2 linked regions of the Homo sapiens genome follow. The protein of the gene in region 1 interacts with the protein of each later gene in a biochemical or structural test. Each region holds a gene or a part of one and is shown on either strand. Other genes may lie near its edges. The genes, in order: MBD1 and ATF7IP.

Region 1 (15,091 bases):
TTCCATGGGGACTGCATCCGGATCACTGAGAAGATGGCCAAGGCCATCCGGGAGTGGTACTGTCGGGAGTGCAGAGGTGAGGGCCATGGATGGACAGGGAAGGCAGGTGGGGCTTCAAGGGAGGAGGAGGAGCCACAAGGGGGGGTTATGGGGATTAGTGATACACGTCTGTGGTGAGCTGGAATGGGGCTCCATTGTGAGTAATAGAAGATCCCACGGGAAGAGGCAGCTCTGCCCTGGACAGGGGTGCAGAGTAGGTGGGTGGGTCAGTAAGGGAGCGAAGAGGAAGAAAGAGGTTTTGGGACCATTCAAGCCATCCAGTGCTCACTCACTTTGGCCCTACTCTCTGCCCCACAGAGAAAGACCCCAAGCTAGAGATTCGCTATCGGCACAAGAAGTCACGGGAGCGGGATGGCAATGAGCGGGACAGCAGTGAGCCCCGGGATGAGGGTGGAGGGCGCAAGAGGCCTGTCCCTGATCCAGACCTGCAGCGCCGGGCAGGGTCAGGGACAGGGGTTGGGGCCATGCTTGCTCGGGGCTCTGCTTCGCCCCACAAATCCTCTCCGCAGCCCTTGGTGGCCACACCCAGCCAGGTGAGTGGCTGCATAAAGTGAATGGATGTGTAAAGTGGTTCCGTTTCAGCCCTGCCTGGGTCCATGATTTCTGTTCTGGGCCCCCTCCTGCAGCATCACCAGCAGCAGCAGCAGCAGATCAAACGGTCAGCCCGCATGTGTGGTGAGTGTGAGGCATGTCGGCGCACTGAGGACTGTGGTCACTGTGATTTCTGTCGGGACATGAAGAAGTTCGGGGGCCCCAACAAGATCCGGCAGAAGTGCCGGCTGCGCCAGTGCCAGCTGCGGGCCCGGGTGAGCATGGACAGAGCTGGGTAGGGTCAGGTGTGGGAGAGCTGGTGGGTCCATGCATGGTTAGTTAAGTCTAGGCATGGATAAACCAGGTGGGATTGGGCCTGACTGTATCCTGACAGGTGGGAAGGGGCCTGTCATGTCCAGATGAATGGGGCATGACCTGGTATGCTGGGCTGGCAGAACACCCCCACCAACCCTGGGTAGACAGAGTGGGGCCAGGTGTTTTCAGGTGGTCATGCATGTTGGTACAGATCAGGCAGGGCTGAGCATTCCTGGCAATGAGGGGTAGCGGGGAGGTGTGTCTGGGGAGGTAAGGCCAGGCCAGGTGGGTAGGGCTAGGGCAAGGCCGCCCTCCATCCACCTGGGGCTGACCTGGGCCTTCCTCCTGCCGGCACAGGAATCGTACAAGTACTTCCCTTCCTCGGTGAGTCCAGCCCCCCAGGGTGGGGTGGGGCATGCGGGCAGGGCGGTCAGGGCCAGTCCTGAGATTCTGCCCTGCAGCTCTCACCAGTGACGCCCTCAGAGTCCCTGCCAAGGCCCCGCCGGCCACTGCCCACCCAACAGCAGCCACAGCCATCACAGAAGTTAGGGCGCATCCGTGAAGATGAGGGGGCAGTGGCGTCATCAACAGTCAAGGAGCCTCCTGAGGCTACAGCCACACCTGAGCCACTCTCAGATGAGGACCTACCTCTGGATCCTGACCTGTATCAGGACTTCTGTGCAGGGGCCTTTGATGACCATGGCCTGGTGAGCAGACAGGAGCATCCACTGGTGGAAGGGTGGAGGTTACAGAAGCAGAGAGTATCCCTAATGAGGAGACAGAGGGTATGGAAGGCTGATATGGGACATGAGTAGGTGGTGGGGTTGTCACGAGCGGGGCAGGTGGGTCAGTGCATGCCCTGCTTGCAGCCCTGGATGAGCGACACAGAAGAGTCCCCATTCCTGGACCCCGCGCTGCGGAAGAGGGCAGTGAAAGTGAAGCATGTGAAGCGTCGGGAGAAGAAGTCTGAGAAGAAGGTGATGGAGAGGGTAAAGTGGATGTGGAAAGGCAGAGGGTGGGGTTGAGGGAGAGGCAGAGGTCAGAGGCTGAATGGGGCAAGAGCCAGAAAGGGCTAGAATGGAGCAAGGGTCTGGGGTCTGGGGCTGACTTTGACTCCACCCTGACCTGACTTGTCTTGCTCAACAGAAGGAGGAGCGATACAAGCGGCATCGGCAGAAGCAGAAGCACAAGGATAAATGGAAACACCCAGAGAGGGCTGATGCCAAGGACCCTGCGTCACTGCCCCAGTGCCTGGGGCCCGGCTGTGTGCGCCCCGCCCAGCCCAGCTCCAAGTATTGCTCAGATGACTGTGGCATGAAGCTGGCAGCCAAGTGAGTCATTCCTGAGAGGTTCAAGGGAGTCAGGAAGTGCATGGTAGGGCCTGACCACAGCCTTCTGTATGTCTACCAGTCAATCAGCTATCCACCAGTCACCAAACAGCCACTACCCACTCACCCATCCACCTACCCACCCACCTGCCCGTGTGTCCATCCAGCCACCATTCCGCCAGTCACCTATTTACTTCTCCTTTTGCCATTTGCGTCTATTTTGCCATTCTCACTTACTGATCACCTCACTCATTCTGTTGCTTGCTACCTTCCCTGCAGCCGCATCTACGAGATCCTCCCCCAGCGCATCCAGCAGTGGCAGCAGAGCCCTTGCATTGCTGAAGAGCACGGCAAGAAGCTGCTCGAACGCATTCGCCGAGAGCAGCAGAGTGCCCGCACTCGCCTTCAGGAAATGGAACGCCGATTCCATGAGCTTGAGGCCATCATTCTACGTGCCAAGCAGCAGGCTGTGCGCGAGGATGAGGAGGTGAGCAAGCAGGGGCGCAGCAGAGCAGGGCCTGTACTTTGTCCTTCCCAGCCTTATTGTTCCTTCCATTCCATGCAGAGCAACGAGGGTGACAGTGATGACACAGACCTGCAGATCTTCTGTGTTTCCTGTGGGCACCCCATCAACCCACGTGTTGCCTTGCGCCACATGGAGCGCTGCTACGCCAAGGTTGGGGTGTCAGACTGAGGGGGCGGACCATGTGGGAACATCAGTGGGCCAGTGGGGGACAGATTTGTTGTCTGGGTGGTGTCTTGGGAGGGCATGCAGCGCACATCCACAGTTCCCTCCATTTGTGCTCATCCCTCCAGTATGAGAGCCAGACGTCCTTTGGGTCCATGTACCCCACACGCATTGAAGGGTAAGTGAGGGTGCCACGCAGTGAGAGGTGGGGGGTTAAGGCGGGGGTCAGAAGTGGGATGTGTGTGGAGCTGGGGCAGGATACGGGCAACCAGCCAGGACAGATGGACCTCCCTTCCCTCCCTCTACTGCCCTCTCTACTCCAAATCCCCAGGGCCACACGACTCTTCTGTGATGTGTATAATCCTCAGAGCAAAACATACTGTAAGCGGCTCCAGGTGCTGTGCCCCGAGCACTCACGGGACCCCAAAGTAAGGTTTTCCCTCAGCTCCTCCCATTTTGCCCCTCCTCCCTGCCTCGCTGTCCCACATTCATCCCTTCCTTCCTCACCTCACTTTTCCTTCACTTTTTCCTCTCAGCTTCCCTGCTGCTTCACCCTCCATTCCTCCTTTTCCATGCCTCCTCACCGTTCCCTGAACCCTCCATTCTTTTCCTTCTCCCTCCTTGAGCCCCCATTCCTATTCTCCCTTATCACCGCTATTCATCCCCCCAACCTGGCCTCCTTGCAGGTGCCAGCTGACGAGGTATGCGGGTGCCCCCTTGTACGTGATGTCTTTGAGCTCACGGGTGACTTCTGCCGCCTGCCCAAGCGCCAGTGCAATCGCCATTACTGCTGGGAGAAGCTGCGGCGTGCGGAAGTGGACTTGGAGCGCGTGCGTGTGGTAGGTTTCTGTGCGGTTTTGGTGCTGCATGTGGTAGGTTTCCATGTCGGACGTGGCCGGGGCAGGCGGGGCTGCAGGTGTTCCTGCTTAGGACTCCTGCCGCTCCCTTGGCAGTGGTACAAGCTGGACGAGCTGTTTGAGCAGGAGCGCAATGTGCGCACAGCCATGACAAACCGCGCGGGATTGCTGGCCCTGATGCTGCACCAGACGATCCAGCACGATCCCCTCACTACCGACCTGCGCTCCAGTGCCGACCGCTGAGCCTCCTGGCCCGGACCCCTTACACCCTGCATTCCAGATGGGGGAGCCGCCCGGTGCCCGTGTGTCCGTTCCTCCACTCATCTGTTTCTCCGGTTCTCCCTGTGCCCATCCACCGGTTGACCGCCCATCTGCCTTTATCAGAGGGACTGTCCCCGTCGACATGTTCAGTGCCTGGTGGGGCTGCGGAGTCCACTCATCCTTGCCTCCTCTCCCTGGGTTTTGTTAATAAAATTTTGAAGAAACCAAGGAAGCTGTCTCCACATTGCTGCGGTTGCAACTGTTCCAGACTTCTGGATAAGATGGGGGGCGCCTGCACCCCGCGAGAGCCCAGGGACCCACATTCCCAGCCTCCCACGGGCAGAGGGTCTACGCAGCGCGCCTTCAGTGTGGTGACACCGCCCATGCATGCTCCTGTCTCCCACCCAGAGCTGTCGTCCGCTGTGGACGCCAGGCCCCGCCTTTTCCCCACAAGCCCCACGTTGGGGATCCGCCTCCTGCAGGGGCGCGCCCTCCCGCGTGCCTCAGTTTACCTGCGGTGTGGCACCGCCCCTTTCCCCGCCCCGCGCGCTCCCACAGCTGTTCGGCGGGGAGGAGGGAGCGGGACACGACCCCCCCTGGGGTTGATGTTCGGAGGGACCCACGAACACAGGATAGACCCCAGCGAGAGGTGGGAGAGGAGAGCGCCGGCAGGGCCAGGGAGTGCGCAGGCGCGAAGCAGCTTCCTTGCCGCGTTCGGTATCGGCTGTGGAGACCGCGGGAGGGAAGGGAGGGCGCAGGCGCAAGCCCTCCCCGACCGCTTCCCTTCAGGTTGAGGCTGGAAAGCGCATGCGCCAGCTAGATGGGCAGCGAGGAGAGCCGCAACTGCCAGTCCCTCGAAGGGGTTAGCTGTCGTTGAACGTCAGCACGCAGATGCAACTGGCTCTCGGCAGGGGGGCGCGCGCACCGCTGCGGAGCGCCGGCCCGTAGGCGCGGGAGCCTCCCTATTAAGGGCACGCGACATCGAGGCAATAGTGCGCAGGTGCTTAGCCAGAGGCGGAGCCCGAGAGGCAGGCAGCGGACTTCCGGTTCCGGGAGCAACGAACAGCCGCGGAGGCGACAGCTACCGCTTCAGAGGAGGCGGCCGCGGAGGAGGAGGAAGGGGAGGAGGGCGAGGCGGGAGGTGCAGGAGGGACCCTCGCCATGGGTCCACGGGCCTAGAGTGGCGGAAGATACCGGCCTGGTGCCAAACTGGTGAGACAGCCTTGGGGCTGGACGTGGAGAGCGCTCAGGCGGAGGATGGGAAGGAATTGTGGCTCAGAACGCTGACGGGGAGGAATGAAGGGCCCTCAGGCCGATAAGGGGGAGGAATGGCGGCGTCGGAATACTGACGAGGAGAAATGGGGGGATTTAGGCTGAGGACGGGAAGGAATGCAGCTCTGAACTCTGACAGGTAGGAGTGTCGGGATCCTGGGACGAGGACGGAGAGGAATGGTGGAGATCAGAACGCTAAAGGGAGACATCGGGGCATCTGAAGTTGAGAGAGAAATGGGGGTTCAGAACTCTGAGAGGGAGAAATGAGGGGCCCTCAGGCTGATGACAGGAGAAATAGAGGCTTTGGAATGCTGAAAGGGAGGAATAGGAGGCCCCATATAGAGGACGAGGAGCAGTAGGGGATCAGAATGGTGACAGTTAGGGATGGCATGATCCCGGGACAAGAACAGAGAGAATGGAGGAGGGTTCGGAATGCTGAGGGGAGAAATTAGGGTCTCTCTGGATGATAAGGGAGGAATGGAGGATGAGAACAGTAAGGAGGAGAAGTGGGGAACTTTTTGGCTGTAGAGGAAGGTTTGGGAGCTCAGACTAGGGAGAAATTGTGGGTGAGAACATTGAAGGAGAAGAAAAATAAGGGGGGAGGTCTTGGGCTGAGGAAGGGGAGGCATGGGAGGCTTCCAGTGTGAGGAATGGAAAAGATGAGGGGCTGTTCAGGCTATGGGTTGGAGCAGTTGTGTCTCGCAGAGGAAGTCGAGGTTGTAACACTGAGGTAGCAGGATAAGAGGACATCAGGCAGAGAAGGAATGGAGTGGTTAAAACACTGAAGGAGGGAAATTAGGAACTCCTGGGTCAAGGAAGGGGGGAATGAGAGACTACTGAAGTCAAGTAGTGAGGGCAAGAGAAATGGGGCCCTTTGGGGCTGAGGATGGGGACTATGGGGGTCTTGGGGTGATAAAATAGAGGGATAGAGGCCCTTAGGTCAGTGACAGGGAGGAATGAGGGGGAAGGATGAAAAGTTTCTGGATTGGCAGTGAGGAGAAATGATGGGTTGTCAGTCTGAGGATAGAGAGGAGTAGGGGATTAGGACACTGAGAATAAGAAACAGGGATCCTTGGGTTGAGGAATGATGATATCCTAGGCCCAGAATAGGAAAGAATGGGGTGAGAATATGAGGGGTTTCTTTTCCATATATGGGCTGGTTGCCTGTGGCAGGTCCTAGGGCTTGGGCAAGCACTAATGGATACCAGTGATTTGTGTGGCCTGGGGCACAGTGTTGTCCCTTCCTAGAGCCTCAGTTTCCCTCATCCCTTCCACCCCCTTTCAGGCTACTGCTGCTTCCTGTGGCCTCCATGGCTGAGGACTGGCTGGACTGCCCGGCCCTGGGCCCTGGCTGGAAGCGCCGCGAAGTCTTTCGCAAGTCAGGGGCCACCTGTGGACGCTCAGACACCTATTACCAGAGGTACTGGGTGGGTAGTGGGCAGAGTCAGGAGTGGGGTAGAGCCTGATTCTGGTAAAATCAAATGGTGTGGTTAAATTTATGGATGAAGTTTAAATTATGCACATACAGTTAATCCTTATTAGCGGATTTTATGTTTGAATTTCACCTACTTAATAAAATTTATTTGTAACTTAAAAGTCACTACTCACAGTGCATTTGTGATTATTCAAGAATACGTACAGAGCAGTGAAAAACTGTCACTCAATGCATGTATTTCTAGCTGAGGCTGAAGGAGCCCTTTTCAGCTTTAATACTGTAAACAGGTGTCCTTTTCGTGGTCTGTTTAGTGTCACATTTTTCTAATTTTTGTACTTTTTGGTGATTTTGCTTTTTAAAATGGTCCCCAAGCATAGTGCTGAGGTGCTGTTTAGTGTTCTGTGAGAAGACTATGTCGTGCTTTATGGAGAAAATACAAGGCAGATAAACTTTGCTGGTTATCTGAGTTACAATGCTGTTGGCTGTAAGTTCAATGTTATGCATCAGAATTATGGTACAACCAGAAAAAGAAGGAAATTTGCCAATATGTGCACAAAGCTGCTTCAGAAAGTACAGAAAGCATTTATAGTCTTGAAGCTATGTAAGAGATGAGAAAGCAGCTACATTGGTGGGTTCATGAAATGACGATCAATAAAGCATAGTTGACAGCATTGTTGAGGAAAGCCAAAGTCATGTTACCCTGGGTTAGGAAAATATTAAGGTTATATCAGCTAGTGCTGGCTGACTTGCACATTTCAAAAGGCGACATGGCATGAAACATGTTAAACCTGCATGCAATGCAGGTTCTGCTGATCAGGAGTCTTCCGAAGAATTTTAAAAATACCTGTTAAGTGTTGTACAGGAAAGGGGTTGTGTGGAAGAGTGGTTTTCAATGTCAATGAGATTGGCTTGTTAAACAAGAATATTGGCAAAAAACCTTACATAACACATACGGCCTCCAAGTCCCCTGGTTTGAGTCATTCAAAGACCATGCAAATAATCATTTGTAAAAAAAAATATGTATTAAGTAATGTGTGTTTAAACAGAAACACACACAAAACAAAAGTTCAGATGCTCTCAGGAACCTAACCCTGTATTTCTTCTAGGAGCAATGGTTTTGTATTCAATGTTCATGATAGCTTTGTAGAACGTAACTACCATAACTAATGAGAGTCAACATAGATGTTTATAAGCATTTACATGTGTTTAAGAAACATTATTAAGTTTCTATATTCTTTCTGATTTTTTAAATCTAAGTTGCTATCTTTCCAGGTAAATATCAAATTACAAATTACTTTTTGTTTATATTTAGTTATAATTTATTCACATATTTATGTACTTGTATAAAACTTTCAAAACTTAAAAGTGCAGTTGTCAAGAACTATAAAGAACCTGAGATTTCATTCTTAGGACAAGATAATAGTGAATTTGTCAGAATTTTGTAGATGCTGGTAGGAGGGGTAAGACTCCTGGGTTACAGATCAAAGACAGTTTATTACAACAGTTGCAGGATCCAGAATACAGTAGTCTCCCCCTTATCTGCAATTTCATTTTCCACAGCTTTAGTTACCTACAGTCAACCACCATCCAAAAATATTAAATGGAAAATTTTAGAAATAAACAATTCATTAGTTTTGAATTGTGTGCCGTTTTGAGTAGCGTGATGAAATCTCACACCATCCCGCTCAGTCCTGCTCAAGAGGTGAATCATCTCTTTGTCCATATCCGTATCCATATCCATGTTCTAGACACAACCTGCCTGTTAGTCACACAGTAACCATCTCAGTTATCAGATAGAAAAAACACAGTACATATTACATTAGGGTTTGGTACTATCCACGGTTTCAGGCATCCACTGGGGAACTTGGGATGTATCCCCTGCACGAGAGGGGGAATTACTGTATTACTATTTTTGTGCCAGTTTCTGAATCCCAATTCCTACAGCATGACGTGAAGAGGGTTGTATTATTATAGGAAAAGAACCGTGAGCTTAGAGAATCAGGTTTTTTTTAAATAATATTAAGACAGTAAGTATGCTTTCCCTTTGGAAAAAGTATACTTTCCCTTCCTCCTATGGAAGGAGACCCTATCTCTTATCTTCCAAGGTTGTTTGCTTTACAAACATCCTTGGAAAGATAGTTTATCAAAAAGGACAATCGTTGTCTCTCTTGCAGGGCATACAAAAATGCAAGAAACCCATGGGGGTCCCAAAATCAATTACTTATACTTTAATTTGTATGTAGTTGCATTTGTTTATATGTTTTTAAAACATATTTGTGTTTTCTTTACTTGATATATACTTGGTACATAATGCTAACATTTATATGTTATATTTGTGTTATATATATATAACACAAATATAATATATTTGTGTTCCTATTTGTGTTTATTTTTACTTACATGAAATAGTTCCAGTATTACTAGTATTATATGTTGTAAATATGTTCATCTGTTTACATTTATATTGTTTCTAATGTTTCTATATGTGTTGGTATTTATATTAATTTTTTTATGTTTTCAAGGTTAGTTGAGGTGGGGGCTGGGCAGGGCTCACAAGCCAATTCCAGGCTGCCTCCTATATCCTGCCAGCCCTGTCAAAAGGTTGTATGAGTGAAATGGCATTGGCTCCACCTGGGTGCTAACCCATCATGGCCCATCCCTAGCCCCACAGGAGACAGGATCCGAAGCAAAGTTGAGCTGACTCGATACCTGGGCCCTGCGTGTGATCTCACCCTCTTCGACTTCAAACAAGGCATCTTGTGCTATCCAGCCCCCAAGGTACTTCACAACATGAGATACCTAGGTAGGGGTGGATGTGCCACCCAACACCCAACCACTGACCCATATTCCTCCTTCCCTTACTTTCCAGGCCCATCCCGTGGCGGTTGCCAGCAAGAAGCGAAAGAAGCCTTCAAGGCCAGCCAAGACTCGGAAACGTCAGGTTGGACCCCAGAGTGGTGAGGTCAGGAAGGAGGCCCCGAGGGATGAGACCAAGGCTGACACTGACACAGCCCCAGCTTCATTCCCTGCTCCTGGGTGAGTGTTGGTCTAAGGTGAGCCAGATGGGTGAGGGTTGTGATTGGGGGTGCTCTTGGAGCCCCACACCTGCCTTTCCCATCCCAGGTGCTGTGAGAACTGTGGAATCAGCTTCTCAGGGGATGGCACCCAAAGGCAGCGGCTCAAAACGTTGTGCAAAGACTGTCGAGGTGAGTGGCCTCCAGAGGATGGGGCATCGGGAGATAGGAGCTGGAGCAGGTCCAGTGTCATGCTAGGCTGGGGTTTGAATGTGGATGTCAGGACAGAGGCTACTGGCATGGTTGGAGGTTGGATATTGGAGATAGCAGGCATAGGTAGAGGTTGAATAGTGGAAGTCAGGGCACAGGCAGTGAGTGAAGTCAGATGTCTGTTGCTTCCTTTCCACTTTTCTTCTTCCCTCTTCCTCCCCACAGCACAGAGAATTGCCTTCAACCGGGAACAGAGAATGTTTAAGGTAAGCACAACCTGCTTCCTCTTCACAACTCTGCAGTGGGAGCAGGATGTGATGGAGCTGGTAGAGTCTGAAGGGATGATGATGGGTCCACAGGATGAAGAGTCATTTTATAGGGTGCTCTCCATAGGTCAGCAGACACAATAATGGGAATTAATGGGGTAATTAATCCCCATTACCATTAGTGCATCAGTAGACACAGTGATGAAGTGAACAGGGGACCAGTAGACATACTAATGGCCTCAGTGATGGTGACTAACCAGACCTTCTCAGATACGGTGATGAGGCTAATGGGGGACTAAAATTCATGGTGATGCCAGCTGATGTAGGGTCAGTAGACATGGGAGGACCAGTGCTTCTGGAGCAGGCCCGTGATCTCGTCCCTACCATTCCTGGCAGCGTGTGGGCTGTGGGGAGTGTGCAGCCTGCCAGGTAACAGAAGACTGTGGGGCCTGCTCCACCTGCCTCCTGCAGCTGCCCCATGATGTGGCATCGGGGCTGTTCTGCAAGTGTGAACGGAGACGCTGCCTCCGGATTGTGGAAAGGGTGAGTTGGGCAAGTGGAAAGAGCCCAAGGCTCACCTCGGCCCCTGGCCCCCATGGGCTTGGCCCCATGCTTCATGCCTCTGCTCCCACCTGCCCCCCGCCAACAGAGCCGAGGGTGTGGAGTATGCCGGGGCTGTCAGACCCAAGAGGATTGTGGCCATTGCCCCATCTGCCTTCGCCCTCCCCGCCCTGGTCTCAGGCGCCAGTGGAAATGTGTCCAGCGACGTTGCCTACGGGTGAGTTGGGCTGGAGGGAGCAGAGCTCATTCTGCTGTTAAAATCGTCGCTGCCTCTGCTTCCTTTCAACCTGGCCTTGCCTACCTCATGTCTTTCTTTTCTGCCTAACCCTATGCTCGCCTTTCTGGCCCCGCCTACCTGCCTCTGTCTGCCAGCACCTTGCTCACCGCCTGCGTCGCCGTCATCAGAGATGTCAGCGACGCACTCCCCTGGCTGTGGCTCCCCCAACTGTGAGTGCCTCACGCCACCCTCTGTCTGCCTGTCCCATGCATGCTTTCTGCACTTAGGGTGTGGGGAGTTTCTGTGTCTGCCTGGTGCCACCAAGCTGAAACCACCCTTTCTGATCTTTCCCAGGGTAAACATGCCCGCCGCAAGGGAGGCTGTGACTCCAAGATGGCTGCCAGGCGGCGCCCCGGAGCCCAGCCACTGCCTCCACCACCCCCATCACAGTCCCCAGAGCCCACAGAGCCGGTGAGGCCCCAGTGGGTGGAGGGAAGGCACAACCCTGACCTTACCCAGTACCTGCCCTGACCCCACCCCATTTGCCTCTACAGCACCCCAGAGCCCTGGCCCCCTCGCCACCTGCCGAGTTCATCTATTACTGTGTAGACGAGGACGAGCTAGTGAGTGGCCCCACCCTACCTGGATAAGCCTAGAATCTCAGGACGCTTGGTTAACTTCAAAGAAGCAGATGCTGGAATGAGCCTATTGGGGAACAGCAAGGCACAATAATGGGTCCTAGGATGGGATGAGTAGATAATGGAGGACTAATACGGGGTCAGCAGGTGCATGAGAGTGCTTCATGTCACATATACCAACACTCTGGTAGCTGATGTGGGGATTGACAGAGGAGCAGCTAGCATAGTGACTGGGGTTCACCTAGGATGAGCGACAGAGTAGGCACAGTGATGGGAGCTAATAGAGAGTTATCAAAATGTTGCTGGAAATGGGGGTCAGAGACATTTTCTTGGTAGCTAGTGGTGGCCTAGGAAATACAGCAGTGGATACTGTAGTGGAGCAGCCACAGTCCTAATGGTATCGAGGGCCAGCTGGCACAGTGATAGTGGCCAATGTTGAACTAGCGAATGCTGAGGAGTGACTAGTGGGGAGTCAGGAGGCTGAGACTAGTATGCAAGTAGCTCCGTCTTATGGGGCTAGAGGAGCACCAGGACCAGCACTGGAATAGGCGTTGAGGATGGCCTCTCCTAGTCCTAGTTGACAGCACCACCCATTCCCCCCACCCCAGCAGCCCTACACGAACCGCCGGCAGAACCGCAAGTGCGGGGCCTGTGCAGCCTGCCTACGGCGGATGGACTGTGGCCGCTGCGACTTCTGCTGCGACAAGCCCAAATTCGGGGGCAGCAACCAGAAGCGCCAGAAGTGTCGTTGGCGCCAATGCCTGCAGTTTGCCATGGTGGGTGGGGCAGGAAGGGTCAGGTGGACGGGATAGGTTGGGCCAGGCGCCCCAGTGCCTGGAAGTGGTGGGCAGGCTTGGTAGGTGGGTGGGTGGGGCAGTAGCTTTGGTTGAGGATTAACAGACATTGTTCTTGGCTTAATGAGTCTAGGTGGCATTGGTGTTGCTAATAGGAGACTAGCAGGCTCAGTGATGAAGGGCTCATATGTAAGCAGATTCCGTGCTGGGACTGATGGGAGATTAGCAGGCATGTGGAGCCGGGCAGGGTGGATGTGATTGGTCAGGACACCAGGTAGCCATAGCACCCTATCTTTCCCCATAGAAGCGGCTGCTGCCCAGTGTCTGGTCAGAGTCTGAGGATGGGGCAGGATCGCCCCCACCTTACCGTCGTCGAAAGAGGCCCAGCTCTGCCCGACGGCACCATCTTGGCCCTACCTTGAAGCCCACCTTGGCTACACGCACAGCCCAACCAGACCATACCCAGGCTCCAACGAAGCAGGAAGCAGGTGGTGGCTTTGTGCTGCCCCCGCCTGGCACTGACCTTGTGTTTTTACGGGAAGGCGCAAGCAGTCCTGTGCAGGTGCCGGGCCCTGTTGCAGCTTCCACAGAAGCCCTGTTGCAGGTGAGGGCCCCACCCTGTCCTGCCTTCCCAGCCTCACCCAGCTGCATGCCAGGGAGCTGAGACCAAGTCTGCTGCAATCCTCCCTCACGCAGGAGGCCCAGTGCTCTGGCCTGAGTTGGGTTGTGGCCTTACCCCAGGTGAAGCAAGAGAAGGCGGATACCCAGGACGAGTGGACACCAGGCACAGCTGTCCTGACTTCTCCCGTATTGGTGCCTGGCTGCCCTAGCAAGGTGGGGGCAGTGATGGATGTTCTGTTGGTGCCGTAGCGGAGTGGTCTGTAAGCAGAGTGATGATGAGCCATGATGGTTCTCTTGAGCAGAGCAATAGATGTGCTGATTGCGACGTTTCTGCAGAATTACCCCGCCTGTCTAACAGACACCCTACCTCCCACAGGCAACTAGCTTTGCCCGCTTTGCTATCCAGCTAACAGAAAAACGGAGGTCAGTGAGGAATGGGAATGGGAAAGCTTTGTAGGCAGAGAGATGGACTTTCTGTGTTGAAATGTGATGGAAGTAGGATTTGTCAGCACAGTGAGGGGTTGGCTGATAGAGACTTTCCTCAGGTGAACTCTGCCCTTCTAATGGTTGCCTGTTTCCTACTTCTCCCAGGCAGTAGACCCAGGCCTGCCTTCTGTGAAGCAAGAGCCACCTGACCCAGAGGAGGACAAGGAGGAGAACAAGGATGATTCTGCCTCCAAATTGGCCCCAGAGGAAGAGGCAGGAGGGGCTGGCACACCCGTGGTCAGTGCTGGGGATGCCCCACCCTGCCCTGACCCTGCTGTAGCCCCAACAACCACATTGACCTATGGTGTTAATTCTTCTCTAGATCACGGAGATTTTCAGCCTGGGTGGAACCCGCTTCCGAGATACAGCAGTCTGGTTGCCAAGGTGTGCCCCACACAGTGAGGGGTGGGGAAGGAGTGGGTGTTGGCCAGATGTGGGCCCTGAGTTTTGAAAGTATAGCCGGCAGTTTGGCATGGTGTGGTGGGAGGTAAAGGCCCATACCCACTATGCTGGTCACAATTAATGAGGGGCGTGTGTGTAGGACCCTAGAGATTTCTCCTGAGATCCAGCCCAATAGCATTCCAGGTTAGGACTCTCCTTTGGGGGTAGGGGAAAGACTTGGTACTCTATCATGAGATTTGAAAGAAAAAGATAGGGAGTCTGGTCCCTATTTTCCTAAGGAATTTCTATAGGGGTCAGCTTTAATATATAAATTCTTATTCAGAGAATAATCATTTGGGTCTTGAAGGCCTTTAGAGTCTCCAGGAGACCTCTGGGTGGGCTGTTGCCTGACATTGAGCAATGTGTACCAGAGAAATGGTGCTGGGCTTGCCTGGGCAGTGGTATGGGCAGGAGATCTGGGTTCCGAGCTGGCTTTGTGAGCTGGGTTCACACGTAGTTGTGTGATCTCTGGTTGCCCTGCACTTCCTGGAGCGGCCTCTGTGGAAGGGCTTGGGCTGGATCTCTTGAGCCTTTCCTGAGCCTATTGAGGTTATTAACTTCAGATGCCTTGCAGAACTGTCCCTGTAGTCCTGGCATAGAACAAAGGGTAGATGCCTGTAAGGACTAGGGTGGTTGGGAGGACAGAGGAGTGCTGGCTCCTGCAGAATATTGACAGACCCTGCATAGAGCCCCAGACACTGGCGATGTAAACTATTGGCCTAAGCACTTGGATTCCTTTGCTCCTACAAACCAGCCCACCAGGCTAGAAACCCTTTCATCTATACTTGGCCAATTACAGAAGTATTGATTGAGTTCCTGTTGGGTGCACAGCATTGAGGACAATGAGCCCTGCAAAGCTTACCCTTCAGGAGACACAGGATACCTACCTTCAGGGAGCTTATAATCTGACTATGTACAAGCTGTCTATAATGGTAGTTTTTAGAAGATATAAAAAAAGATAAAGGATAATTAAGGGGAAGTGGATGGAGGACACAGAATAGTAGGAAATGGTTTTGTAATGCTCCATTGCGCACATAGCAAACCTCATTCAACATACAGACCTGCTCCCTTTTCCCTAGGTCCAAAGACCTTAAAA
Region 2 (15,091 bases), on another chromosome or scaffold:
CTCTCTGTGAGGCAAATGGTATCTCAACAAATACCGACTTTTCAAGGAAGAAAGCTCTCCACTTCTCTCATAAACTTATATACTACCTTAAACAGTATGCAGTATTCGGCATATTTTTTAAAAATGAGTCCAGAGAAATAGAAGGATATAGTTACCTCATAAAGTTAACTGTTAGCAACAGACGTCTTCGTATGTGATTTATAAATTTCTTGGCAAGAACAAGATTTTTAGAAGAGGCTTACTCACACTTAAGACAGAGTGAAAATTACTCTCACAGAATGCAAAGTATAGAATAATAAACATCACCATTACCTTTAAATGCCATACAAACATCCTACATTGCAGGTTGCAGTATCAGGTTTCCAGAATTTCCAATAAGGCAATACCTACACAAATATTGCCAGGCTAAAAATGTAGCAAACTTGCATTCCCAAACTGGGAGAATCTAGCTTATTTGTAATACTTTGTGAAAAGATACTATGAAACTAAAAAGGTAACCGTGGAGTGGAAACTGCTACTAGAAAGTCTGTTATCAGTAGCTACTTCTACTTAAGTCCTCCATTCTCTCCCAGAAGAAACAAACCAAACAAAAAGCATCTATCAATATTAAAACCTGCCTCAATAAAAGCCTAGTGTTCTAACTTAGCACCTCTAGTAAATCTAATATAGCTGCTGCCCCTACGTGCCATGGTAGGCTAATTTGAGGACACCATCTTATAATAAATATACTTCTCCCCTAAATAATTGCGATTTCTCCCTGTACCTTCCTTCCAACTGGAATAAAACATTTTAAGTAGTTATTTTACTTTAGTAAATATTTTTAGAATTCCTATTTGAGAATTTGTTTTCCTTTGACAGAAAACATAATATAGGCTAGGCTAATGAATTTTTTTTTTATTCTACTGGGCTTTCTTCATCTGATTATATAATGCTATGAAAGCTTTTTTTAAAAAAGATTAGTAAATATAAATAAAAATGTTCATCAAGAGAACCTTTTGTAGGTTAGGTAAGAAAATTGTTACCACGTGACCATAAAAACACCCAATAAAGAACAATTTGAACATGGGCCTTCAGTTTTGTAGACAGGAATAATCTTGAACACATATCAACATTGCAACCACTGCAGGTCAAAACATATACATGCAGATATAGACAGGTGTTCATATACATCTAGAAGATCATCAACTCCTCCTTTCTGAAATTTTCATTGCCATAACACTGGCAACTTCTTTACCATCATCATTAGTCCTAGAATGAGTAATATCTACATAATTGGTTGGCAAATTTGATTTATAGCATACTCCTTTGTGGTCTCATTTTCTGAGAGTGAAAGGTGGTTTGGAGAATTAATTTTTTGGCAATCTATAGGCTTTCTTCATCATGAATCAAATCTCACACCTCAGTATACTGACCAGTCAAAAGTCTCTAAAGAGTTTTCTTTACAACTAGAATACTTCCTATTATAAGCCATCAAAGTTGCAAACAAAACAACATTAGTAAAAGAGCTCCCTCCTGTAATTCTAGGAAAAATGAATCACTATTTTGAGAAGGTACAAATATGAATTCAAATATTGTAAAGGAAGAGGACTTCGAAGTTATTTCACAAACTCCATAAATTCCTTTCAAAATATTCTCAACCACATTCTCCTCCTAAAACTTAACTCAGCCCTCCAGTCCTAAATTATCTACACCCAAAACACCTACCTGACACCAGTACAGCTGGCCCTCATATTAAAAATCCATGACCTAAGCTGAATTTTAATAACTTTGAAGAGGAACAGAGAGATACACAGGAGGTTATATCTAATTGTTACATAAAATGACCTCAAAGGATATACTTTAAATTCTTTTTTTTTTGAGGCAGAGTTTCGCTCTTGTCTCCCAGGATGGAGTGCAATGGCGCAATCTCAGCTCACTGCAACCTCCGCCTCCCGGGTTCAAGCGATTCTCCAGCCTTGCCTCCTGAGTAGCTGGGATTACAGGCATGCACCAACATGCCCAGCTAATTCTGGGATATACTTTAAATTCTATCCAAAGCTAACAATGGGTACATCAGACTCAACTTGGCACCATCAAAACAAAGTTAAAAGGTTAAAATGGGAAGGACGATAAAGAGAATAAAGAGGAAATGAAGCTTTCCCCTTGATATTTTAGCTCATTCTATATTGTAATCTTACTATTTGCTTCCTTTGAAAGAATACTAAGGAGTTAGTGTTGGGTGATAGCTTTGGGTGATAAACTGAACTAGAATGGTTTTCATAATCTCTAACACAGTGTGCAACACGGATACTAAAATGTGTGAAAAACTGTCTTCCACAATATGGTTTTCTCTTGGTCCACTTTACACAAAGTTAAATAGTGACCAAAAATAAAAGCATCTATAGTTTTAGAAGAAAATAGCACGTCAAATTTTTGGAGTTAAATGTGATTGTCGCCACCATGCCCGGCTAAGATGAGACTATGCATGCACCTGTGTGTGTGTGTACATACACATCCATGTACATACACACACCTTGGTTTAAAAATCACTTGAGTAGGCTGGATACAGTGGCTCACAACTGTAATCGCAGCACTCTGGGAGGCCGAGGCGGGTGGATCACCTGAGGTCAGGAGTTCAAGACCAGCCTGGCCAACATGGTGAAACCCCATCTCTACTAAAAATACAAAAATTAGCCGGGCATGGTGACAGGTGCCTGTAATCCCAGCTACTCTGGGGCTGAGACAGAAGAATTGCTTGAACCCAGGAGGCAGAGGTTGCAGTGAGCCAAGATTGTGCCACCGCACTCTAGCCTGGGCAACAAGAGCAAAACTCCATCTTAAAAAAAAAAAATTACTTGAGGAGTTGTGCTATATTTGGTAGAGATGAAGGAGAAATCAAGGGTAAAAGGCTGCAAGGGAAGACTAAGCAACAACGGACATATGGCCATATTTATTTATTTATTTTTGGCCATGTTTATCTTTGTAGTTAATCTTTAAGGCACAAAATAAATGTAAAAGCCAGATTAGGAAAGGGAGGGGGCCATTGCAGATCTTTTTTCACCTAATTAACAACTCAGGAGACCAGACAAAAGAAACAACAAATAGATCCTTTCCTGTGTTCGAATTAACCTATTTTAAACTATTTAGCCATTTTGTTTTTTATTTATTTCTTTGGGTTTTGTTTTGATTCTGTTTGACCCACTTAACTAAAATGATACTATAGATCCTTCAAAAGCAGAATCATGCCAGTTACACATCTCAAATCCTTTGATCTACTTACTTCGTACTTTAAGAGGTAAATTTGAGAATGAAAATGGGAGACTCCAATGCAATAACACCTACATAAGGAAAAACACACATAAACACCCACACATATTCCCCAGCCTCAAAACTAAAGCAAGGTACACATTTACATTTCCAAACCCCAAAGCCTAAACTGTCCAGGAAAAGATTCTAGCTTTGTGGGCTGAGTTTATTTTGCTTCTGGTTATAAACAAATGTAGTGTATACACACATCTGTCCAAGAAATCTTGCACAAGGTGGATTTTACATGGGGTATCATGCACAAGATTAAAAACAAGACCAAAAGGTGGAAATTTTAAAAGAGGAAAATATAAAGGCTCCAAGGTTTAACTGCTCTGGGTAGAAGAGATCACATCTGTTGACTGAGGATCACAGAAAGGCCCAAAACGTCCATAAATATCCTTGGCTCGTACTGCAAAGTAGTATTTGCTACCAGATACAAACTGGGTGAGAGTACATGCCATGGGCAAGGGAAGTGCCTTGACTTCCCCAATCTTTTTCCATTGTGAGGGCACAGTGGCACTGGGTTCCTCATGGTAAGCATAGAGATGGTAGCTATCAACAGTGGCACAGCTTCGATCCACCTCCAGGACACTCCATGACAGTACTATGCCATTTTGACTCTGAACGCGTGCTAACTTCAAGTGTGGCTTCTGAGGCAGAGATGTGCTGGCAGCTTCTGGGGGCAGACGCTGTGGTTGTGGAGCTTCTGGTAAGGGTGCTGGGTGCACGGGGCGTGGGGGCTCCTGAAGAAACAGGTCACACTGATTAATGATGATTGCAAAAAGAACTATTTTAGAATGTTAGAATTAAAACACCTTAGAGAACATACGTAGAAGTATCATTTTATATCAAGAATTCTAGGAAATACCAAATACCATATCAAATTTGGCAAGTTCTATTTGGGGTTTTGTAATGAATCATGCTACAAACAATGATGCTGAGGTTATTCCTACTATACTTCCTAGACCTAAAATATTTTGAGTTTTTCTTAGGAAATAAAAAGCCCCTGCTGACGGAACATCATTTTGAGGAACACGGAAGTAATGATCTATTTCTAACAAAATAATTTATGATTGAATTATCTATGTTACAGATTATCATTTCAGTATGATGTAACATTTTTAAATATCATGTATGGCAACCAAGATCATATAAAATTGGAGAATACAAATATACTTTCATTTTTAAGTTATTTATAAATAAGCACATTAACACTAAATGTGTACTATATTCTTGGCCAATTTACAAGAAAAAGGTGATATTTAAACTCAACTGTGAAGGAGGATCCAGAGATGCAGAAATAATCATGTACCTTTCAGCCAAAAATAAAGCATGAGCAAAGGCATGTGGACAGTAAAGTGAGGGGACGTATGGACAAGAACAAGTATTAACTTTTTCTTGGACATAGGGTACATGAAGAAAAATCTGGAAAGGTAGGTTAAGGCCAGATGATGAAAAAACATGACTCTAACTTTAGGAAGTCCTATTGACTTTTCTAACACTGGAACATCATCATCATTATAATGATATTTCATACCAGTCAAACACTGACAAAATTGTGTCACAGGATAATGTGACATTGTTTTGGAGGCTAAATCTAAGGAGAAATCTTTGGTTATCTCTGTTACCTCTTAACTAATGAATTCCCAATATCATTGGATTCTTTAGAACAATTAATTGATGACAATGTAGCAGTTAGATGTGGCATAGTTTAGAACGAAAGAATAAAATTAACACATGGAGAAATGAAAAATGTCCTTTTTAATTTAACTATGAATTAGAAATGGTCTATATTTCACTTCATATACCCCAACTGTGGACCTGTTTTTGTACACTGTACACCACAAGCAAACTCAATGATTCTAAATGATCATCATCCCTAGGAACTATGTGTTCATAATGGTAAGATCAATTTTTAGAAATAAACTTCTGAAAAAGCAGGAAGACCTAACACTTCCCTTGGATATAACCATTTTAAAGAAAAATGCCAAATACAATAATATTTTATACCTCTACAGTTGAGAATTTTGCAAAACCAAGCATCAACACTTACAGTATGCACTTGTGGTGGTCGGTGATGCACTGTGAGCTGAGGTCCTGTTGATCCCAGGGTTAGTCCATTGTTTACAACATATGTGGTTGTTTGAGGCACTCGAACTGTAACACCTACAAACAAACAAAAAAATTACAGGATAAAATGATAATTCTATTGTAAATTTGGTGGAAAACTGATTAAATATTTGAAGGCAGTGAAGCAATGTTTTCAAGATTCGAAAGGAAAGATATTTCTAACCTAGAGGTCCTGTTCGTATTCAGCCAAGCTATCAATCAGCCTGTGGATAAAAAAACTTTCTTACATGCAAGCACTAAAAAAAAATTCTAACTACCACAAACCCTTTCTCAAATAGTCAATGGAGAATATGTGCCACCAGTACGTGAGAAAATAAAGAGAAAAACACGAGACACAAGCAACAGGAGGTCCAGCACAGGGAGAAATAAATGGATCGTTACCAGGAGAACTATGAACAAAAATCCTAGAACACTGGTTGTGTACCACATGTAAAAGGTAAATGGCCATAATGGAGCAGTGTGACTCAAAAGACAGACAAACTGGGAGTATCTTCATAAAAATCTCTGCAGTCTCATCTTTTCAACCAGGACAGAAAGCCAGAATAAGTCATCCTTGCCATGTATTAATGAGGTTCCTCTCATTTTCTCCATGCCCAGCTCCTTGGTTGAGGATACTCACTTCACCCCACAGAAAACTGCTGTGACATACACCAGGGAAACAAAAAGAGAAAATTTAGAGCCACCTACTGCCCTAACTATATTCCTGCCATTTATTCAGTACCTGGCCCATGCTGTAGTTCGGCCTGGTTCCTGGACTATAGTGAGCCAAGTTTCCCAGAACTCATTTCTAACCTTGTTGATTAATTTTCCCAGACAACGCTCTTGTAAACTTGAGAGAGTTGAAGCCAAGCTATGATCCAGGGACTCCAATCAGTTTATTTTCTAAATGATAGCATTACTGTGTTTCTTTAAATAGCTATATTTTCCCTTGCTGTCACATTTTGCAAAACTACAACATATGTGTGATGGTTAATACTGAGTGTCAACTTGATTAGATTGAAGGACACAAAGTATTAACCCTGGGTGGGCCTGTGAGGATGTTGCCAAAAGAGATTAACATTTGAGTCAGTGGACTGGGGAAGGCAGATCCACCCTTCATCTGGTGGGCACAATCTAATCAGCTGCCAGAAAATATAAAGCAGGCAGAAAAACGTGAAAAGGAGAGACAGGCTTAGCCTTAGCCTCCCAGCCTACATCTTTTTCCTGTGCTGGATGCTTCCTGCCCTGGAACATTGGCCTCCAAGTTCTTCAGTTTTGGGACTCAGACTGGCTTCCTTGCTCCTCAGCTTGCAGACAGCCTACTGTGGGATCTTTTTTTTTTTTTTTTTTTTTTTGAGACAGAGTCTGGCTCTGTTGCCCAGGCTGGAGTGCAGTGGCATGATCTCGGCTCACTGCAACCTCCGCCTCCTGGGCTCAAGAGATTCTCCTGCCTCAGCCTCCCAAGTAGGTGAGATTACAGGCTTGTGCCACCACACCCAGCCAATTTTTGTATTTTTGGTAGGGATGAGGTTTCACGATGTTGGCCAGGCTCATCTCGAACTCCTGACCTCAAGTGATCTGCCTGCCTTGGCCTCCCATACTGCTGGGATTACAGGCGTGAGCTACCATGCCCAGTCTATTGTGGGAACTTCTGATTATGTAAATTAATACTTAATAAACTCCCCTTTATATATATAAACATTCACTATATATAAAGTATTTTACATATATTTAATATTTATATATAATTAAGATATACTGTATATATATAGTAGGATATAAAGTATATATACAATTAGTTTATATGTAGTATATATTTTATGTATATACCCTATTAGTTTAATACATATATAATATATAAAATATATATATCCTATTAGTTTATATATAGTATATATTATATGAATACTATATATAGGAAACATATGTGTATATATACATATACACACACACATATATATATATATATATATATATATATATATATATATATATATATATATTCTATTAGCTCTGTCCCCCTAGAGAACCCTAATTCAGATTTTGGTACCAGGAATGGGGTCCAGAGGAACAGAATATTAAGGATGGAGTTCTTTCATTGGTTTTGGGGTTTCTGGAGTTGGCTGCTTAATGTGATTAGACCCAAAAATGTTAAAAACTCTAATTCTAATAGTATAGAGAACACTGATAGTCCCTGGTGTGAACTGTTTAGAGGGTTATGCAAAATAAATGCATTTGACACTCCTGATTCACTGCTTGTGGGAAGCAAGGAGTTTAGTGACTCTATACATAATACCTTGGACCATATGTGGAGAACCAAGGAACATAATGAAGCTGGTCAGTTGCTCCTAAGTGCAGTGGAAAAAGTGATGAAAGAAAATGATGAACTCAAGGATTCTGTCTCTCAGCCTCAGAAGAAGATACTGAGGCTCAAAACTGCTAAGATTGCCCTGAATGAGAGTCTTATCTCCTGTAGAGAGAGCGCTGAAGTTGTGGAAAAACAGACACAAGCTCTTATCATGCGAGTGTCTGACCTGCAATGAAAGATACATGCACAGCCTTGCCAGGTGTCTACTGTTAAAGGGAGGGCACTGACTGGAAAAGAATGGGACCCTGAAACTTGGAATGGGGGTGTGTAGAAGCACCCTGATGAAGCTGGGGACACTGAGTTTGTAAATTCTGATGAAGCTTTTTTGCCAGAAAGAACAGCTTCCCCATCCCCAGTAGTGGCAACATCCACTCCCTGACCCATGCTGCCATCAGCCTTTCCAACTTTGTCTGAAGAAATAAAGCCTGTGATATGTGAGGCAAGAGTGATGGCTTCCCCTGAGGCAGTTGCCATGCAAGACAATGTTGATTCTTCTCAGGAGCCACTCCAAACACCTCTCTTTGCTTCTAGATGTATAACTACACTAAAGTACTGGTGGGCCCCTAGAGGTGAGGTTGAAGGTGTGACCTATAAGGAGGTATGCTACACTCAGAGAACTGTTTTGAGTTCTTTAATTCAAATATACAGAAATCTGAAGAACAGGCATGGGGATGGATATTAAGGGTATGAGATTATGGTGGAAGGAACAAAGTTGGATCAGGCTGAATTTCTTGATTTGGGCCCACTAAGTAGGGACTCTGCATTTAATGTTGCAGCTCAGGGAGTTAAAAAAGGTTCTAGTAGGTTATTTGCTTGGTTAGTTGAAATAAGGATTAAAAGATGGCACACTGTGAGAGAGCTGGAAATGATTTATCTCCCTTGGTTAATGTAGAGGAAGGGATCCAAAGACTAAGGAGATTGGGATGGTAGAGTGAATCAGTCACTTTAGAGCTAGTCATCCCAGCTGCGAGGGTCCAGAAGATATACCCTTGACCAATGCCTTGCGAAACAGATTTGTGAGGGCAGCACCTGAATCTCTGAAGAGCCCTCTAATTGCTCGACTCTATATGTCAGATCTAACAGCGGGAACTGCAGTCACTCAACTACAAAATTTAAATACAATGGAAATAACTGGATCCTAAGTTGGCAGGGGCCAAGTGGTGGCACTCAACTGTCAAAGGCAATGTGGGCATAGCTACCATAATGGACAGCAGAGGCAAAGTGGCAATCAGAAGAGTCTGACTTGTATAGATCTCTGGCATTGGCTAATTAATCACAATATTCCTAAAGATGAAACTGATAGGAAGCCTACTGCATTCCTACTTATACAACCAGAAAGCTTCTAGGTCAAATGGACAAAAGACTAAATTGAATAATAAAAACAGAATGATGACCCCTCAATCAATTTCCAGACTTGAGCCAGTTTACAGACCAAGAACCCCTTGAATGAAGGGGAGGCCTCGTCCCCTTGAGGAAAGACCCCACTACATTCCTGACAATTTATGCAGTGAATCTTTCTCCCATCCTTCCCCAAGGAGATCTCTGGCCTTTTACCAGGGTAACTGTGCATTGCGGAAAAGGAAACGATCAGACATTTCAGGGACTACTGGACACTGGTTCTGAGCTTACACTGATCCCAGGAGACCCAAAGCATCATTGTGGTCCTCCAGTTAAAGTACAGGCTTATGGAGGTCAGATAATTAATGGAATTTTGTCTCAGGTCTGACTTACAGTGGATCCAGTGGATTCCTGGATTCATCCTGTGGTCATTTCCCCAGTGCCAAAATGCATAATTGGCATCGACATACTTAGCAGCTGGCAGAACCACCACATTGGCTCCTTGACTGGTAAGGTGAGGGCTACTATGGTGGGAAAGGTCAAATGGAAGCCATTAGAGCTGCCTCTAAAAAGTAGTAAATCAAAAACTATATCCCATACCTGGAGGTACTGAGATTAGTGCCACCATCAAGGACGTGAAAGATGCAGGGGCGGTGCTTGCCACCACATCCCCATTCAATTCTCCCATGTGGCCTATGCAGAAGACAGATGGATCATGGAGAATGGCAGTGGATTACTGTAAGCTTAATCAAGTGGTGACTCTAACTGCAGCTGCTGTACCAGATGTGGTTTCACTCCTTGAGAAAATTAACACATCTCCTAGTACCTGGTGTGCAGCCATTGACTTGACAAATCCTTTTTCTCCATTTCTGTCCATAAGGCCCACCAGAAGCAATTTGCCTTCAGTGGGCAAAGACAGCAACATACCTTTACTGTCTTACCTCAGGGGTGTATCAACTCTCCAGCTTTGTGTCATAATCTTATTCAGAGAGACCTTGATCACTTTTTGCTCCTGCAAGATACCACACTGCTCCATTACGTTGATGACATTATTCTGATTGATCAAGTGAGCAAGAAGTAGCAAAAACACTGGACTTATTGGTGAGAGATTTGTGTGCCAGAGGATGGGAAATAAATCTGACCAAATTCAGGGATCTTCTACCTCAGTAAAATTTCTAGGGGTCCAGTGATGTGGGGCCTGTCAACACATTCCTGTTAAGGTGAAAGACTAGTTGCTGCCTTTGGCCCTTTCTATAACCAAGAAATAAGCACAACGTCTAGTGGACCTATTTGGATGTTGGAGGCAACACATTCCTCATGTGGGTGTGTTACTCCAGCCCATTTATCAAGTGACCTGAAAGGCTGCCAGTTTTGAGTGTGGTCCAGAACAGGAGAAGGCTCTGCAGCAGGTCCGTGCTACTGGGCAAGCTGTTCTGCCACTTGGACCATAGGACCCAGCAGATTCAATGGTGCTTGAGGTGTGAGGGGCAGAGAGGGATGCTGTCAGAGCCTTTGGCAGGACCCCATAGGTGAATCACGGTGGAGGCCTCCAGGACTTTGGAGCAAAGCCCTGTCATCTTTTGCAGGTAACTACTCTCCTTTTGAGAGACAGCTCTTGGCCTGTTAAAGGGGCTTTGGTGGAAACTGAACATTTGACTATGGGTCATCAAGTCACCTGAGATGACCATCATGAACTGGGTGCTTTCTGACCCACTTAGCCATAAAGTGGGTCATGCACAGCAGCATTCCATAATCAAATGGAAGTGGTATATATGTGATTGGGTTCGAGCAGGTGCGGACGGCAGAAGTAATTTACATGAGGAGTGGCTCAAATGCCCGTGTCTCCCCTCTGACACCCTGCCTTGTCTTCCCCAGCCTGCACCAATGGCCTCATGGGGAGTCCCTGTGATCACTTGACAGTGGAAGATTAAGACTAGGTCCTGGTTCACAGATGGTTCTGCACCATATGCAGGCACCACCGGCAAGTACACAGCTGCAGCACTACAGTCCCTTTCTAGGACATCCCTGAAGAACAGCAGTGAAGGAACATCTTCTCAGTGGGCAGAACTTGGAGCAGTGCATCAGGCTGTGTGCTTTGCTTAGAAAGAGAAATGGCTAGATGTGTGATTATATAGATTCATGAGCTGTAGCCAATGGTTTGGTTGGATGGTCAGGGACTTGGAAGAAGCATCATTACAAAATTGGTGACAAAGAAATTTGGGGAAGAGCTCTGGGCATGGACCTCTTTAAGTGGTCAAAAACTGTGAAGGCATTTGTATCCCCTGTGAATGCTCACCAATGGGTAACCTCAGCAGAGGAGGATATTAATAATCAAGTCCATAGGATGACCCGTTCTGTGGACACCATTCGGCCTCTATCCGCAGCCACCCGTGTCATCGCCCAATGGGCTCATGAACATAGTAGCCATGGTGGCAGTAATGGAGGTGATGCCTGGGCTCAGCAACATGGACTTCCACTTACCAAGGCTGACGTGACTATGGCTAATGCCGAGTACCCAATTTGCCAGCAGAAGAGACCAACACTGAGCCCTCGCTCGGGCATGCCATTCCTCGGGGTGATCAGCTAGCTACCTGGTGGCAGGTTAATTATATTGGACCTCTTCCATCATGGAAAGGGAAGAGGTTTCTCCTCCCTGGAATAGACATATACTCAAGATATGGGTTTGCCTATGCTGCACACAATGCTTCTGCCAAGACTACTATCCATGGACTCACAGAATGCCATGGTATTCCACACAACATTGACTCTAACCAAGGCACTCACTGTACGGCTGAGTAAGTGCAGCAGTGGGCTCATGCTCATGGAATTCACTGGTCTTACCATGTTCCCCATTGTCCTGAAGCAGCTGGATTTACAGAACGGTGGAATGGCCTTTTGAAGTCACAATTACAATGCCAACTAGGTGACAATACTTTGCAAGTCTGGGGCAAAATTCTCCAGAAGGCCATGTATGCTCTGAATCAGCGTCCAATATATGGTGCTGTTTCTCCCATAGCCAGGATTCATGGGTCCACGAATCAGAGGGTGGAAGTGGAAGTGGTACCACTCACCTTCACCCCTAGGGATCCACTTGCAAAATTTTTGCTTCCTGTTCCTGCGACATTACGTTCTGCTGGCCTAGAGGTCTTAGTTCCAGAGGGAGGAACGCTCACACCAGGAGACAAAATGATTCCATTAAACTGGAACTTAAGATTGCCACCTGGATACTTTGGGATCCTCCTACCTTTAAGTCAACAGGCTAACAAGGGAGTTAGTGTTGGCTGTGGTGACTGTCCCGGACTGCCAAGAAGAAATCAGTCTACTGTTCCACAATGGAGGTAAGGAAGAGTATACATGGAATACAGGAGATCCATTAAGGCGTCTGTTAGTATTACCATGCCCTGTGATTGAGGTCAACAGGAAACTATAACAGCCCAATCTAGGCAGCACTAAAAATGGCCCAGACCCCTCAGGAATGAAGGATGGGGTCACTCCACCAGGAGTAAAACCACTACCAGATGAGGTGCTTGCTGAAGGCAAAGAGAATACAGAATGGGTAGTAGAAAAAGGTAGTCATCAATACCAGCTACTACCATGTGACCAGTTGCAGAAATGGGGACTGTAATTGTCATGAGTATTTCCTCCTTCTTTTGCTAAAAACATGTTTGTGCATGTATGCACTTGTACAAACAAAATGTCTTTATTTCCTTTTCCTTCATCATGTGACATAAGATTTATTGACTTCCTATCAACATTTAAGTATTGTTAACTTTATGTAATAGTATTTGGCTTGGGGATTGGTGCGCTTCTGGTTGTACAAAGGATAATTGTATTATGTTAGGCATAAGTATGGCCTTATTACCCTCTTTATTTGAAGGCTGCGTATGATATTAGGAGATGTATATGGGTTCAGGTTGACAAGCGGTAGACTTGTGATGGTTAATACTAAATGTCACTTGATTGGATTGAAGGACACAAAGTATTAATCCTGCGTGTGTCTGTGAGGGTGTTGCCAAAAGAGATTAACATTTGAGTCAGTGGGCTGGGGAAGGCAGATCCACCCTTCATCTGCTGGGCACAATCTAATCAGCTGCCAACAAATATAAAGCAGGCAGAAAAACGTGAAAAGGAGAGACAGGCTTAGCCTTAGCCTCCCAGCCTACATCTTTTTCCTGTGCTGGATGCTTCCTACCCTGAAACATCGGCCTCCAAGTTCCTCTGTTTTTGGGTGTCAGACTAGCTTTCCTTGCTCCTAAGCTTGCAGATAGACTATTGTGGGATCTTGTGATCGTGTTAATATTTCATAAACTACTCTTTATACTATAGATATATATAAAAATATACTATATCTACAAATTTATAGGATACGTGTGTGTGTGCATGTGTGTGTGTCCATCTTATTAGTTCTGTCCCTTTAGAGAACCCTAATTCAGATTTTGGTACCAGGATTGGGGGTCTAGAAGAACCGAATATTAAGGATGGAGTTCTTTCATTGATTTTGGGGTTTCTGGAGTTGGCTGCTTAATATGATTAGACCCACAAATGCTAAGGACTCTACTTCTAGTAGTATAAAGAACACTGATAGTACCTGGCATGAACTGTTTAGAGAGTTATGCAAAATAAATGCATTTGACACTCCTGAATCACCACTTGTGAGAAGCAAGGAGTTTAGGGACTCTATACACGATACCTTGGACCATATGTGGAGAACCAAGGAACATAATGAAACTGGTCGGTTCCTCCTAAGTTCAGTGGACAAAGTGATAAAAGAAAATGATGAACTCAGGGATTCTGTCTCCTGGCTTCTGAAGCAAATACTGAGCCTGAAATCTGCTAAGACTGCCTTGAGTGAGAGACAGTTATCTCCTATAGAGAAAGAGCTGAAATTGTAGAAAAACAGACACAAGCTCTTATCATACAATTGGCTAACCTACAACAAAAGAGGCATGTACCAGACTCACCAGGTGTCTACAGTTAAAGTGAGGGTATTGATTGGAACAGCTTCCCTACACCCAGTGAGGGCAACGTACCCTCCCTGATCCATGCTGCCATCAGTCTTTCCAACTTTGTCTGAGGAAATAAAGCCTGTGATATGTGAGGCAACAGTGATGGCCTCCTCTGAGGCAGTTGCCAGGTAAGACAATGTTGACTCTTCTCAGGAGCCCCTCCAAACACCTCTCTTTGCTTCTAGATGTATAACTACACTAAAGTACTGGTGGGCCCCTAGAGGTGAGGTTGAAGGTGTGACCTATAAGGAGGTATGCTACACTCAGAGAACTGTTTTGAGTTCTCTAATTTACATAAACAGAAACCTAGAGAACAGGCATGGGGATGGATATTAAGGGTATAAGATTATGATGGAAGGAACAAAGTTGGATCAGGCTGAATTTCTTGATTTGGGCCCACTAAGTAGGGACTCTGCATTTAATGTTGCAGCTCAGGGAGTTAAAAAAAAAGGTTCTAATAGATTATTTGCTTGGTTAGTTGAAATAAGGATTAAAAGATGGCACACTGTGAGTGAGCTGGAAATGATTTATCTCCCTTGGTTAATGTAGAGGAAGGGATCCAAAGACTAAGGAGATTGGGATGGTAGAGTGAATCAGTCACTTTAGAGCTAGTCATCCCAGCTGGGAGGGTCCAGAAGATATACCCTTGACCAATGCCTTGCGAAACAGATTTGTGAGGGCAGCACTTGTATCTTTGAAGAGCCCTCTAATTGCTCGTCTCTGTATGTCAGATCTAACGGTGGGAACCTTAGTCACTGAACTACAAAATTTAAATACAATGGAAATAACTGGATCCTAAGTTGGCAGGGGCCAAGTGGTGGCACTCAACTGTCAAAGGCAAGGTGGGCGTAGCTACCGTAATGGACAGCAGAGGCAAAGTGGCAGTTAGAAGAGTCCGACTTGTATAGAGCTCTAGCATTGGATAATTAATCACAGTGTTCCTAGAGATGAAACTGATAGGAAGCCTACTGCATTCCTACTTAAT

The links.
Region 2: the proteins of MBD1 (region 1) and ATF7IP form a complex in vitro, tested with the Homo sapiens proteins (2 studies listed by BioGRID).

What each region holds. Positions count from the first base shown.
Region 1 is NC_000018.10:50,271,524-50,286,614, reverse strand, and holds the start of MBD1 (methyl-CpG-binding domain protein 1), read left to right. Parts: upstream 1-5,091; 5' UTR 5,092-5,252; exon of another isoform or gene 5,253-5,398; coding exon of another isoform or gene 5,399-5,451; intron 5,452-6,597; coding exon of another isoform or gene 6,598-6,622; coding exon 6,623-6,732; exon of another isoform or gene 6,733-6,739; intron 6,740-9,410; coding exon 9,411-9,525; intron 9,526-9,616; coding exon 9,617-9,783; intron 9,784-9,870; coding exon 9,871-9,953; intron 9,954-10,196; coding exon 10,197-10,237; intron 10,238-10,633; coding exon 10,634-10,780; intron 10,781-10,886; coding exon 10,887-11,015; intron 11,016-11,170; coding exon of another isoform or gene 11,171-11,245; intron 11,246-11,369; coding exon 11,370-11,486; intron 11,487-11,569; coding exon 11,570-11,638; intron 11,639-12,261; coding exon 12,262-12,429; intron 12,430-12,751; coding exon 12,752-13,051; intron 13,052-13,143; coding exon 13,144-13,281; intron 13,282-13,659; coding exon 13,660-13,791; intron 13,792-13,876; coding exon 13,877-13,938; intron 13,939-15,074; coding exon 15,075-15,091. Other genes in the region: CXXC1 (CXXC-type zinc finger protein 1), read left to right, coding at 1-76, 358-593, 687-866, 1,264-1,290, 1,368-1,613, 1,776-1,895, 2,053-2,237, 2,514-2,721 and 5 more. UniProt on the Homo sapiens protein: Transcriptional repressor that binds CpG islands in promoters where the DNA is methylated at position 5 of cytosine within CpG dinucleotides. Binding is abolished by the presence of 7-mG that is produced by DNA damage by methylmethanesulfonate (MMS).
Region 2 is NC_000012.12:14,486,591-14,501,681, reverse strand, and holds part of ATF7IP (activating transcription factor 7-interacting protein 1), read right to left. Parts: intron 5,452-15,091; coding exon 5,339-5,451; intron 4,029-5,338; coding exon 3,609-4,028; 3' UTR 1-3,608. UniProt on the Homo sapiens protein: Recruiter that couples transcriptional factors to general transcription apparatus and thereby modulates transcription regulation and chromatin formation. Can both act as an activator or a repressor depending on the context.